Linked DNA regions of Homo sapiens. The protein of the gene in region 2 interacts with the protein of the main gene of each other region in a biochemical or structural test. Each region holds a gene or a part of one and is shown on either strand. Other genes may lie near its edges.

What was found.
Region 1: the proteins of TTC1 (region 2) and GNA15 form a complex in vitro, tested with the Homo sapiens proteins (one study listed by BioGRID).

The regions. Positions count from the first base shown.
Region 1 is NC_000019.10:3,160,019-3,164,532, forward strand, and holds the end of GNA15 (guanine nucleotide-binding protein subunit alpha-15), read left to right. Parts: intron 1-2,774; coding exon 2,775-3,001; 3' UTR 3,002-3,731; downstream 3,732-4,514. UniProt on the Homo sapiens protein: Guanine nucleotide-binding proteins (G proteins) are involved as modulators or transducers in various transmembrane signaling systems.
Region 2 is NC_000005.10:160,032,930-160,040,226, forward strand, and holds part of TTC1 (tetratricopeptide repeat protein 1), read left to right. Parts: intron 1-2,210; coding exon 2,211-2,271; intron 2,272-3,761; coding exon 3,762-3,874; intron 3,875-7,297.

The DNA.
Region 1 (4,514 bases), on a different chromosome or scaffold from region 2:
CTGCTTAGCTACTGCCGAGTAACAAACCATCCCCAAACTTAGTGACTTAAACTGGTCATTTTCCTTTGCTTATGATTTTGTGGGTCAGGAATTTGGGAAAGGTTGAGCTGGGTAAGTTCATCTCTGATCCATGTGACATCAGCTGGGCTCTATGGGATTGGAGATAAACTTCCAAGATGGCTTCTTCCCCCATATGTCTGGTGCCTTGGTGCTCTTGGCACTCTTGGCCTCTCTCTCTGTGTCTCTCCCTGCCTCCCTCTCCCATCTCATCTCTCTCTCCTCCCCTTTCTCCTAGTCTGTCTCTCCTTTTCCACCTCCCCTGTTCTCTCTGTCTCCATCTGGGGCCTCATGATCCACAGCCTCTTCACATGGTTTGAGCTTACTCACAATATGGCTGCCTCAGGGTAGACAGACTTCAGCCCAGGTGGAAGCTGCTTCTCATGATAGCCTCAGAAATGTCAGACGTTACTCTGCCACATTCTATTTGTCAAGCACATCACTCATATCAGCCCGGATTCAAAAGAAAGAGACTCCATCTCTTGAAGGCAGCATGACACATGCATACAGGGAGGGAAGGAAGTGACGGCAGCCATCTTGGAGATAACTTGCCTTCATGTCCTGGGGATGCCGTAACAAAGTACCACAAACTGGGTGGCTTAAAACAACAGGAAACAACAGAAGTCCAAAGTTAAGGTATTGGCAAGGTTGGTTCCTTTTGGAGGCTCTAAGGGAAAATCCATTCCATGCTTCTCTCTCAGCTTCTGGTGGTGGCCTACAATCCTTAGCTTGTAGACATATCACTGCAATCTCTGCCTCCATGTTCACATGGCTGTCTTCTCACCATGCCTTTATGTGTCCTCTCCTGTTGTTATAAGGCCACCAGTCATTGGATTTAGGGCCCATACTTTGGTATGACCACTTTTTTTTTTTTTTTTTTTTTTTGAGACAAGGTCTTGCTCTGTTGCCCAGGCTAGAGTCCAGTGGTGTGATCACAGTTCACTGCAGCCTCAACCTCCTGGGCACAGGTGATCCTCCCACCTCAGCCTCTTGAGTTGCTGGGACTACAGGCGCACACCACCACACCTGGGTAATTTTTGTATATTTCTGTAGAGACAGGGTTTCGCCATGTTGCCCAGGCTGATCTGGAACTCCTGGGCCCAACCACACATCTGTCATCCACCTGCCTTGGCCTTCCAAAGTGCTAGGATTACAGGCGTGAGCCCTCATGCCTGGCCATGACCTAATTTAACTTAACTAATTACATCTGCAAATATCCGATTTCTAAAAGTCATATTCTGAAGTTCCAGGTGGACATGAATTTTGGGGGACACTGTTCACCTCAATATACAAGCAACCATAGTAGATGAGTCCTTAGTACATGCTTGACACCAGGTCCACAATCAGTAAACATAAACTTTGGTGAAGTCACCAGGTTTTGATCCCTGGTCTTGTCATGTCTCAGAGCCCATGAGGCCAATTTTAGCCAATTATACCCACAAGATTCAGGGTCTGGGAGATAGACGTCAAGTTGTTCCAGGATGGTGGCCTGGATAGCCCCTCTTCCTTGCCAAGCAGCCCTGGGAATCAGCTCATAGTTTAGAGAATTTGGGAACAGGATAAGGTAGATATTTTTTTCATTCAGGTCAAAGGGAACCACCCATGACTCATCCTTGTCTCCCAGCACAAGTGACTGGTGCACTCTTTGCTGACTCCCAGCCCTACCCTCCACTGTGCTAAATAATATTTGTGATAATAATAAGAAACCACACTTTGGGAGGCTGAGGCGCGCAGATCGCTTTAGGTCAGGAGTTTGAGACCAGCCTGGCCAACATGGCAAAGCCCCATCTCTGTTAAAAATACAAAAATTAGCTGGGTGTGGTGGCGGGGGCCTGTCATCCCAGTTACTCGGGAGGCTGAGGCAGGAGAATCGCTTGAACCCAGGAGGTGGAGGTTGCAGTGAGCTGAGATCATGCCACTTCACTCCAACCTGGGTGACAGAGTGAGACTCTGTCTCAAAATAATAATAATAATAATAATGATAATAATAATAAAATTGATAACAGCAGCTAACACATCTACCGCACTGGTGGAAGCACTCTACAAAGCTTCTTTAATCTTCATGTTAAAACCCTATGCAGGGCTGGGCACAGTGGCTCACGCCTGTAATCCCAGCGCTTTGGGGGGGTCAAGGCGGGCTGATCATTTGAGGTCAGGAGTTCGAGACCAGCCTGGCCAACATGGCAAAACCCCATCTCTACTAAAAATACAAAAATTACCTGGGCATGGTGGCAGGCGCCTGTAATCCCAGCTACTGCCAAGATTGCACCATTGCACTCCAGCCTGGGCGACAGAGCGAGGCCCCATCTCAAGAAAAAAAAAAAGAGGACTCTCTTCCCCTCGTTTGGCCTTGATGCCGCCATCTTCACAGTCCTGGGATATTTGTCTATGCGATTCCAGTCTTCCAACTGCACTGGCTGTAAGCGAGGCCAAGAGAGTGTCTCTCTTTAACACAGTTCTGCCCGAAGTCCCAGAGCTGGGTCTCATTGGTCCATTTCAGGTCACATGACTCGTGTGAGACAATCTCCTGTGTTCCCATTGGCTGGGCCGGAGTCGTGTGACCAGCTATGACTACAAAAGATGGAGTCAACGCACAGAAAAATGACAGGCGCGATCCCTGGGTCCCTTCAGTGCTGGTTACAGGGAAGAGGGTCTCCAGAGGCCCCCTGGGTCCAAAGAGGGAGGGTCCTCACCCCCTTCCCACACTGTTTCCCCAGGCCCTAAGCAGGATGCTGAGGCAGCCAAGAGGTTCATCCTGGACATGTACACGAGGATGTACACCGGGTGCGTGGACGGCCCCGAGGGCAGCAAGAAGGGCGCACGATCCCGACGCCTCTTCAGCCACTACACATGTGCCACAGACACACAGAACATCCGCAAGGTCTTCAAGGACGTGCGGGACTCGGTGCTCGCCCGCTACCTGGACGAGATCAACCTGCTGTGACCCAGGCCCCACCTGGGGCAGGCGGCACCGGCGGGCGGGTGGGAGGTGGGAGTGGCTGCAGGGACCCCTAGTGTCCCTGGTCTATCTCTCCAGCCTCGGCCCACACGCAAGGGAGTCGGGGGACGGACGGCCCGCTGCTGGCCGCTCTCTTCTCTGCCTCTCACCAGGACAGCCGCCCCCCAGGGTACTCCTGCCCTTGCTTGACTCAGTTTCCCTCCTTTGAAAGGGAAGGAGCAAAACGGCCATTTGGGATGCCAGGGTGGATGAAAAGGTGAAGAAATCAGGGGATTGAGGACTTGGGTGGGTGGGCATCTCTCAGGAGCCCCATCTCCGGGCGTGTCACCTCCTGGGCAGGGTTCTGGGACCCTCTGTGGGTGACGCACACCCTGGGATGGGGCTAGTAGAGCCTTCAGGCGCCTTCGGGCGTGGACTCTGGCGCACTCTAGTGGACAGGAGAAGGAACGCCTTCCAGGAACCTGTGGACTAGGGGTGCAGGGACTTCCCTTTGCAAGGGGTAACAGACCGCTGGAAAACACTGTCACTTTCAGAGCTCGGTGGCTCACAGCGTGTCCTGCCCCGGTTTGCGGACGAGAGAAATCGCGGCCCACAAGCATCCCCCCATCCCTTGCAGGCTGGGGGCTGGGCATGCTGCATCTTAACCTTTTGTATTTATTCCCTCACCTTCTGCAGGGCTCCGTGCGGGCTGAAATTAAAGATTTCTTAGAGGCTGCGTCGCCAGCGTCCTGTTTATCCCCTCTGCATTCCTTTCTCGGCTTACGTGTCCCGGGGGCAGTGCTTACAGTGCGGGGAGCAACGTGGAGTAGGAAGGAAAAAAGTTATACTTCTTGTCTACCCACCTGTCCTGGCCATGGTACCCAGAACTGTGGAGGCTGTGAGTCCCGCAAGCCGGGACGTGGAGTCCAACCTCCCTCCCAGGCTGGGGGGGACATTGAAGCAGACTCCTCCGTGGCTACTGACCTGAAATTCCAGTAGCAGCCCCCACCCAGCTTTGAGAAGGCCTCTTACTATCCTCAGGGCAGTGTTCTGGGGTGCAAGCCGTAGCACCCCACTTTACAGGTGAGGAAACCGGGGCGCAGAGAAGTGGAGTAATTTGACTAAGCTCACACACCTGGAATTGACAGAGGCAGGAGCCTGTTCCTACGTTGAACACATTTGTGGTTTTTTATTTGTTTGTTTTTTGAGACAATCTCACTTGGTTGCCCAGGCTGGAGTGCAGTGGTGCGATCTCGGTTCACTGCAGCCTCTGCCTCCTGGGTTCAAGTGATTCTCATGCCTCAGCCTCTGCAGTAGCTGAGATTACAGGCACCCGCCACCACACCTGGCTACTTTTTTTTTTTTTGATGGAGTCCCGCTCTGTGGCCCAGGCTGGAGTGCAGTGGCGCAATCTCGTCTCACTGCAACCTCCACCTCCCAGGTTCAAGTGATTCTCCTGCCTCAGCCTCCTGAGTAGCTTGGACTACAGTTGTGTGCCATCACACCTGGCCATATTTTT
Region 2 (7,297 bases):
CGGCCAGGATGGTCTCAATCTCTTGACCTCATGATCTGCCTGCCTCAGCCTCCCAAAGTGCTGGGATTACAGGCGTGAGCCACCACGCCCAGCCAAGTTCTACCTGCTTTCTAAGCCTATTCGTTAAGCCTCTCACTGATTCTGTGAGCACTGATACCTTGCCAGTAAACCTGCCCCCTAAAGTTTTTTGCTTAAGATAGTCTTTTGCTTGCATCCAGTAACCCTAATCAATACAGTAGAGATCATTACAATCTAAGCATCTTTCTTATGGGTAGTACTAGGTAAATATGGCCATATTCTTATATTTTATTTTTTTCTGAATTCCTTTAGAATAGCCCTTCCCTCAGATACGTTATATCTTAAAATGAATTGTTATTTGTACCTGCTGTGTGTCTGGCACATAGTATGTACCATAAAAATTAGATTCACTCTATACTTACCTTTTAGTTTCCTCACTGAGATTCATCAAGTGCTCTGTTTAATCCATAGTGTAATAATAAGACATTTGGGAAATACCCGGTCTCATCAATAGCATATTGACAAATCTTTTCCAGAGAAAGAATGTTTTTATTTTGGTTCCTGTATTAATCCATTTTCACACTGCTATTAAGAATTGCCTGAGAGTGGGTGATTTATAAACAAAAGAGGTTGAATTGACTCACAGTTCCACATGGCTATAGAGGCCTCAGGAAACTTAACAATCATGGCGGAAAGTGAAGAGAAAGCTGATGGTTTTAAAGTGTGGCACTTGAAAACCATCAGTTCTCATGAAAGTGAACTCACTATCATGAGAACAACATGGGGGAACCGTCCCCATGATCCAGGGTCCGTCCCTTGACCCGTGGGGATATTTGGGTAGGAACACAGATCATATCAGTTCCTCATGTTAAAAGGACCAATTGTTTAGGTTCCAGGCTTCTCTTGTGCATGAAATACCCTGCTAACTGTATTTCCTCCCTTTGAAATTACTTAATCAGAATGCTAACTGTATTTCCTCCCTTTGAAATTACTTAATCAGAAGCTTCAAGAAGGAGGAAAGAGCCCAGCACAGTGGTGTGCACCTATAGTCCCATCTACTCAGGAGGCTGAGGCAGAAGGATCACTTGAGTCCAAGAGTTCAAGGTTATAGTGTGTGTTGATCACATCTGTGAATAGACACTGCACTCTAGCCTGGACAACATAGTGAGACCCTATCTCTTTTTTTTTTTTTTTTTTTTTAAGGGACTTTGGTAGATTTTCTGTTTTTGGGGTTTTTTTGTTGTTTTTGTTTTAAAGCACTGTCAAAAGGTGGCAGGCATACAGACTCTTCTGGTTTGGCTTGTGCCAGTTATATTGTTAAGATGTTCCACAAAAAAGTGCACACACTCAGCATGCGTCTACTTTGCTTTGCAGGATAACATTCTCTCAGCCTTTGTGTTTGATGAGTTTTTGGCCATCTATGTGAGTTTCTGAGTTGTTTGAATAAGCTAAGAAAAGACAGACTTATTTATTTAGGTTTCTTCACATTTTCCTATGTTAACCTGCTAACAGTATACTGCCCTAACCCTACAGACTTGGCTTGTACCCACAAATGTGCTCTCCTAGCATACTGTGTCTCCTTCATGACACAAACCATGAAGGGTTCTTATAAGGATTAAAGTACTTATTTCACAGAAAATAATAGCTTATTTATTGAGCCCTTATTTGCTAGTCACTGTATGGGCAGCTTTATGTATATTATGACATTAATCCATTAAACAGTAGTCCATAATACTATTAAAGCTTCATTTTTGAAATGAAGAAACTAAGGCTCAGAAAGATTCTGAAACTTGTCCGAGGCCACATAACTAGTAAGTACTAGAAGCTACAATTTGAATTTACACTGGTATGCACACCAGTGGGTATGTTATTTAGTTTCATTTCTGAGTAAGTAGAAATTAAGTGATACTGTAATTATCATTCCATTGCAAAAGATAGAAACATAGAAAGCAAAGGACATGCCAAGAAGACCTACATTTTTTGTTTTAAACATCAAGAATGCAATTGATAATTAGCCTGATGGTCATGTGTTTTTTTTCCTCTATCACTGTACAAGGTTTTGGTGAAACTGATGCAGTTCTCAAAAGTCAGACTGTTGCCTATTAAATAGACTTGTGCATAAGGAAAGCTCACCTTTTTGTTCACTTATAATAATATTGTGAGAAATTATGTAATTCTCTGATGTCTTTCAGAAAAGAAGAGAAGAGAGCACTAGACTAAAGGAGGAGGGAAATGAACAGTTTAAGAAAGGAGGTAAGACGACTTTCAGCACTGATAATCTGGTCATCTTGACTCCTCATCCTGTTGTAGAGTCTGTGAAGAAACCCCAAAGAACATCTGAAGAAACCCCAAAACCAGACTTCACAATACAGTGTTGCTTCCCAGTACCTTGGCATTTTGAGTTTTTAACCAGGCCAAATTATTCATCTGATGGTGACCAGTTACCATTTGTCTCTTGGCACATGCATAGTCTTTCTGTAATCCACTATCTGTTAGTCTAGAATCAGGGGTAAAACTCTTGAGCTCTTGCTTTGGAAAACACTAACCTGGAATATTAAAGGTTATGTGCTGCATTGCTGTGAAAGCAGAGTCGCCGCTCCTCACTTGCTGTGGGGCTGTGAAAGCAGCCTGACTGCTCTGGTATGGCCTAGGGCTGCCTGTCCTTTGGTTGCTCTTTCTTTCTTTCTTTCTTTTTTTAAATTCTCCAAACTGCTTCAGAAAGGTTGCTCTTTCATGTGCCATTTTCTTTGGATGCCTTAAGTAGGGAGATTCTTCATGTCCTTCTGCATTTTCTACATTTGCTTAGAAATAAGTTGGTGGGGTTCATTCTGATAATTTGGGGTAACTATTTGATCTTAGAGCAAAAGTCTTCTGTCACATCTTAAAGTGTATATGCTTCAGAAATCTAGGAGTGTTAACATTTTCCGCTAGTTATTTTCAGGTTTTTAATTTTTTTCTTATTGTTTTCCAAAAGTTACCCTATTACCTGATTTCAGATTTTAGGGTTTTTTTTTTTTTCCTATATCTTGGTTTAGTAATCATTAATACTGTTTTCTAATAGAATAAACACTTCTAATTTTGGAAGCATATTTTTTGTATGTTAATATTAAATATTTCAAACCTGAGAAAGGAGTACATAGGCAATTTTCTATTAGTATCCTGACCATAATTCTCTTTTTCACCATTTTCTCTTTTAAGGTCTTGATTTAAATATTGATTTTTACATTGTTCCTTTTAGCTCTATCAAATGTCTCTCTTCAAACATTTCACGGATGCTGTTTTAGCCAGGTTGACTGTATGAAAGCACAACAGATTTAATGAAAACAAATATGTATAATTTTTTTCTTTATCTCAGGCCATGGATCCCAGAGTTTAGTCTCTTTCCTCTGTCCAGTTCTGTAACCTCCTTTGAAAACTCCTTTCTGAATTGCCCAGCCAAATGAAAACTGAACATTGAGGGAATGCCAGGACTCCTGAGTATTGAGGGCTTGTCACTGACAGCATGTTCAGCTGTCAGTTCACCAAGCACAGCCTGTGAGATTGGCACAAGCAAGCACTGTTCCTTTAAAGAGAGAAGAAAAGAAGAAATGATTTTTACTGCGCCAGACTTAATAGACTGTTACCATCTTTTAACTCAAAACCTTCATCCTATGAATGGAAAACAGTGCTTCTGAGATCCTGTGGAATATAGTAGTATCAGGAATAAAATCAAAATGACCATTCATCCTTTCTCTTATCCTCAGATTATATAGAAGCTGAAAGTTCTTATAGTCGAGCCCTCGAAATGTGCCCATCCTGCTTCCAAAAGGAGAGGTCGATTCTATTTTCAAATAGAGCTGCAGCAAGGATGAAACAGGTATGTATCTGTGACCTTTTCTTTTTAAAAAGCACATGGACTTGCAGTCTTTTCATACCATAGTTTCTCTCCAGAAACTAGCATAGAGGTTGCTGCCTCCCTTTTCCTGCCCATATATTTCCCTGATGTAAAGGCCACAGGGAGAATAGAAAATCTTTTGAAAAACTTGAGTCAGATTACTGTTAACATTCCCCATTAAAGTAGCTGAGTGAATACTTTCATGGAAGGAGGGCTGGCAAATTTTTTGCTAAACTAGGTCAGGTTAATGAAGCAATGAGCCAAGCAGTGCATGTCCTAGAATAGCTCTAGATCCTTATTTTAGGCCTCTGGAATTCTAGATAAACATGCAAAGGCACAGGGAAACACTGGTAAAAACTCTGGGCTTTAAAGCATCTTTAAAGATGGTTATTCCCAGGATTCTGACTTTTCTGTTCAAAGTATGGACACTTGGAGAAATCTCCAACAGCTGGGATAAAAGGTACCCTTAAATGCAAAATAGGTGTCAAGGAACTTTGAAAACATTTTGTATTTCCAAAGGACTGAGAACCTAGTATAACAAGGTGAGTATGGAATAGGTGAGAGTACAAATATATTTGTTTTATACCATGACCTTATTAAAAGTTAGATTTGGGCCAGATGCAGTGGCTCACACCCGTAAACCCAGCACTATGGGTGGCCGAGGCGGGCACATCACCTGAGATCAGGAGTTCGAGACCAGCCTGGCCAACATGGTCAAACCCCATCTCTACTAAAAATACAAAAATTAGCCAGGCATGGTGGTGGGCACCTGTAATCCCATCTACTCAAGAAGCTGAGGCAGGAGAGTCGCTGAAGCCTGGAGGCAGAGGTTGCAGTGCACTGCACTCTGGCCTGGGCGACAAGAGCAAAACTCTGTCTCAAAAAAAAAGTTAGATTTGTTTCTGATTTGTCTGATTTTCCGATTTAGTCTTCATAATCCTTGGATTGAAATGAGAGTGGTTTTTTTTTTTTTTAAACCATACCACTTTTTAAACTATGGCTACTTACATCCAAAGTACAAAGGATAGGTTATTTAACATACCTTTAAGCAACCATGATGCTGGCTCAAGATTGGAAGTGGCAGTGTTTTCATTTGTTTGTTTAGATCAGATATCTCTTTGATACTGTCTGAAATTCTCAAATGCCTCTACCACAGTCACTTTAGGTGACAAGGTTTTTTTTGTTGTTGTTGTTTTTTTTAAAGGCCCCAGGGCAGGGTTGCGGGGGTGGGTGCTTGAATGCTTGGACATGCAGAAAGGTTACGGTTTTTTTTTTTTACCAGAACTTGTGTAAGATTCAATCTTCAAAGCAGAGTATTTTTGGAGTATTTCATGTGGCATGAGAGAAGAAATAATTTTATAGTATACAAACCAACATTTTGTATTAGAGAAAACAAAACAATTGGTTTAACTTTATTTAAAACAATATTCATTAATGTGTCCCACCAGCAATCAGAATTAACATCTAACAGTTTTTACACTTACCTGGAAAATTCTGATCTTTTAGATTTGCTTCTCCCTTTTGCCACATTTTTAGACTGGACATTGTCATTGTGAAATAGGATCAAGGATGTGCCTTCAGTATCAGAGGAAATGCACCATACCCAGTTGGCTCCTGGGATTTGGGATTCTTTGTTTCTACAGTTGCCCAAGTTATTGATATTTCTAGGTTTGGGCTCACATAAATAGTCTGGTTCTTGAGTTAGGAAAATGTATGGTCTTGTTAGTATTTTGTCTGTCACATCTGAGGAGAACTCAAAAGAGCGTTGCTCTATGATTGTTGCCTGTTCAAAGAATAGTTTTGTTGGTGAAGTTTTCTGTTCTTTTAAGTTGCGTTTCTTTTTTTTTTTTTTTTTTTTTGAGACGGAGTCTCACTCTGTCACCTAGGCTGGAGTGCAGTGGTGTGATCTCGGCTCACTGCAACCTCCGCCTCCCGTGTTCAAGCGATTCTCCTGCCTCAGCCTCCTGAGTAGCTGGGATTACAAGTGCGCGCCACCACGCCAGGCTAATTTTTGTATTTTTAGTAGAGACAGAGTTTCACCATGTTGGTCAAGCTGGTCTCAAACTCCTGACCTCGTGATCCGCCCACCTCAGCTTCCCAAAGTGCTGGGATTACAGGCGTGAGCCGCCGTCCCCGGCCTTAAGTTGCATTTTTAATACTTTATGAAGACTCTAAAATGAGAGACTTGATAACTTCTAGGATTAGTACCCTGACACAATTTAAGGAGCATATTATATTCTAAGTTTTTCAAGGAAATGATGGTTTAACTGCTTTAAGAGGTAAAGATGAAGAATTTCTGAAAGGCAGGTTTGCAAGCTCAGCATCCCTGACTCAGTGCCCCTGGCCACGCTTCACATTTCATATCTGGAGAGAGAAAAGGTAACCTGGAGCTAGGGCAGAGTTTCAGCTCTAGGTCTCGCTAGCTATACAAGAGCAGAGCCCTAAAAGAGTAGGTTCTCTTTTTTTTTTTTTTTTTAACTACTGTCCTTATATATTATATACATTGTTTTATATGTATAGTTAGATTTGTTTGTCCTTATATGCTGTGTACATTTGTTTTGTCACTATATATTATGTATACTGTTTTATATAGATAGATAGCTACCTATATATAAAAATTATGAAAGAATGGTAAAGTTGTGATTTTTTTTTTTTTCCCACACACTCCACTTTGGGGACTACCATTGTAAGCAGCAGACAACACCTGGGTCCTCTGAGGTATTAGTAGACTATGAGCCTCAAACAAAAGTTTCTGCAATAAAATTCCATAATTCCTTGATTTGAGGAGACAGTGGATAAGATGCACTACAGCTTAATAATCACTTCTAGGCACACAAAGAATACCATCACAACAGTTGTACACATAAATTGTAAAGATTTATTTCTATTTCAGAAACTGTGAAATTGTGTGTCTTTGACTTATAGAAATGTGATAAGTTGAAAAAATATTGACTTATATAAAGTTATACAGATTACTTACAGGACTTCTTAGAGTTTTTGATATTTGAATTGGTATGCTGAACATTGAAAGAGAAATAAAAAAAGGTCCCAGATGACCCTGAAACCTTTTTTGTTTTGTTTATTGTGGTAAAATACAGATAACATAAAGTTGGCCATTTTAAAGTACAGTCATGAGTCACTTAACAACGGGTATACATTCTGAGAAATGTGTTATTAGGTGATTTCATCATTGTGCAAACATCATAGAGTATACTTACACAAATCTGGATGGTATGGCCTACTACACACCTAAGCTATATGGTATAACCTATTGCTCCTGGGCTACAAACCTGTACAGCATGTTTCTGCACTGAATTACTATAGGCAGTTGGAACACAATGGTAAGTATTTGTGTATCTAAAAAGAAAAGGTGCAGTAAAAATGCAGTATTTTTTAAATGGTGCA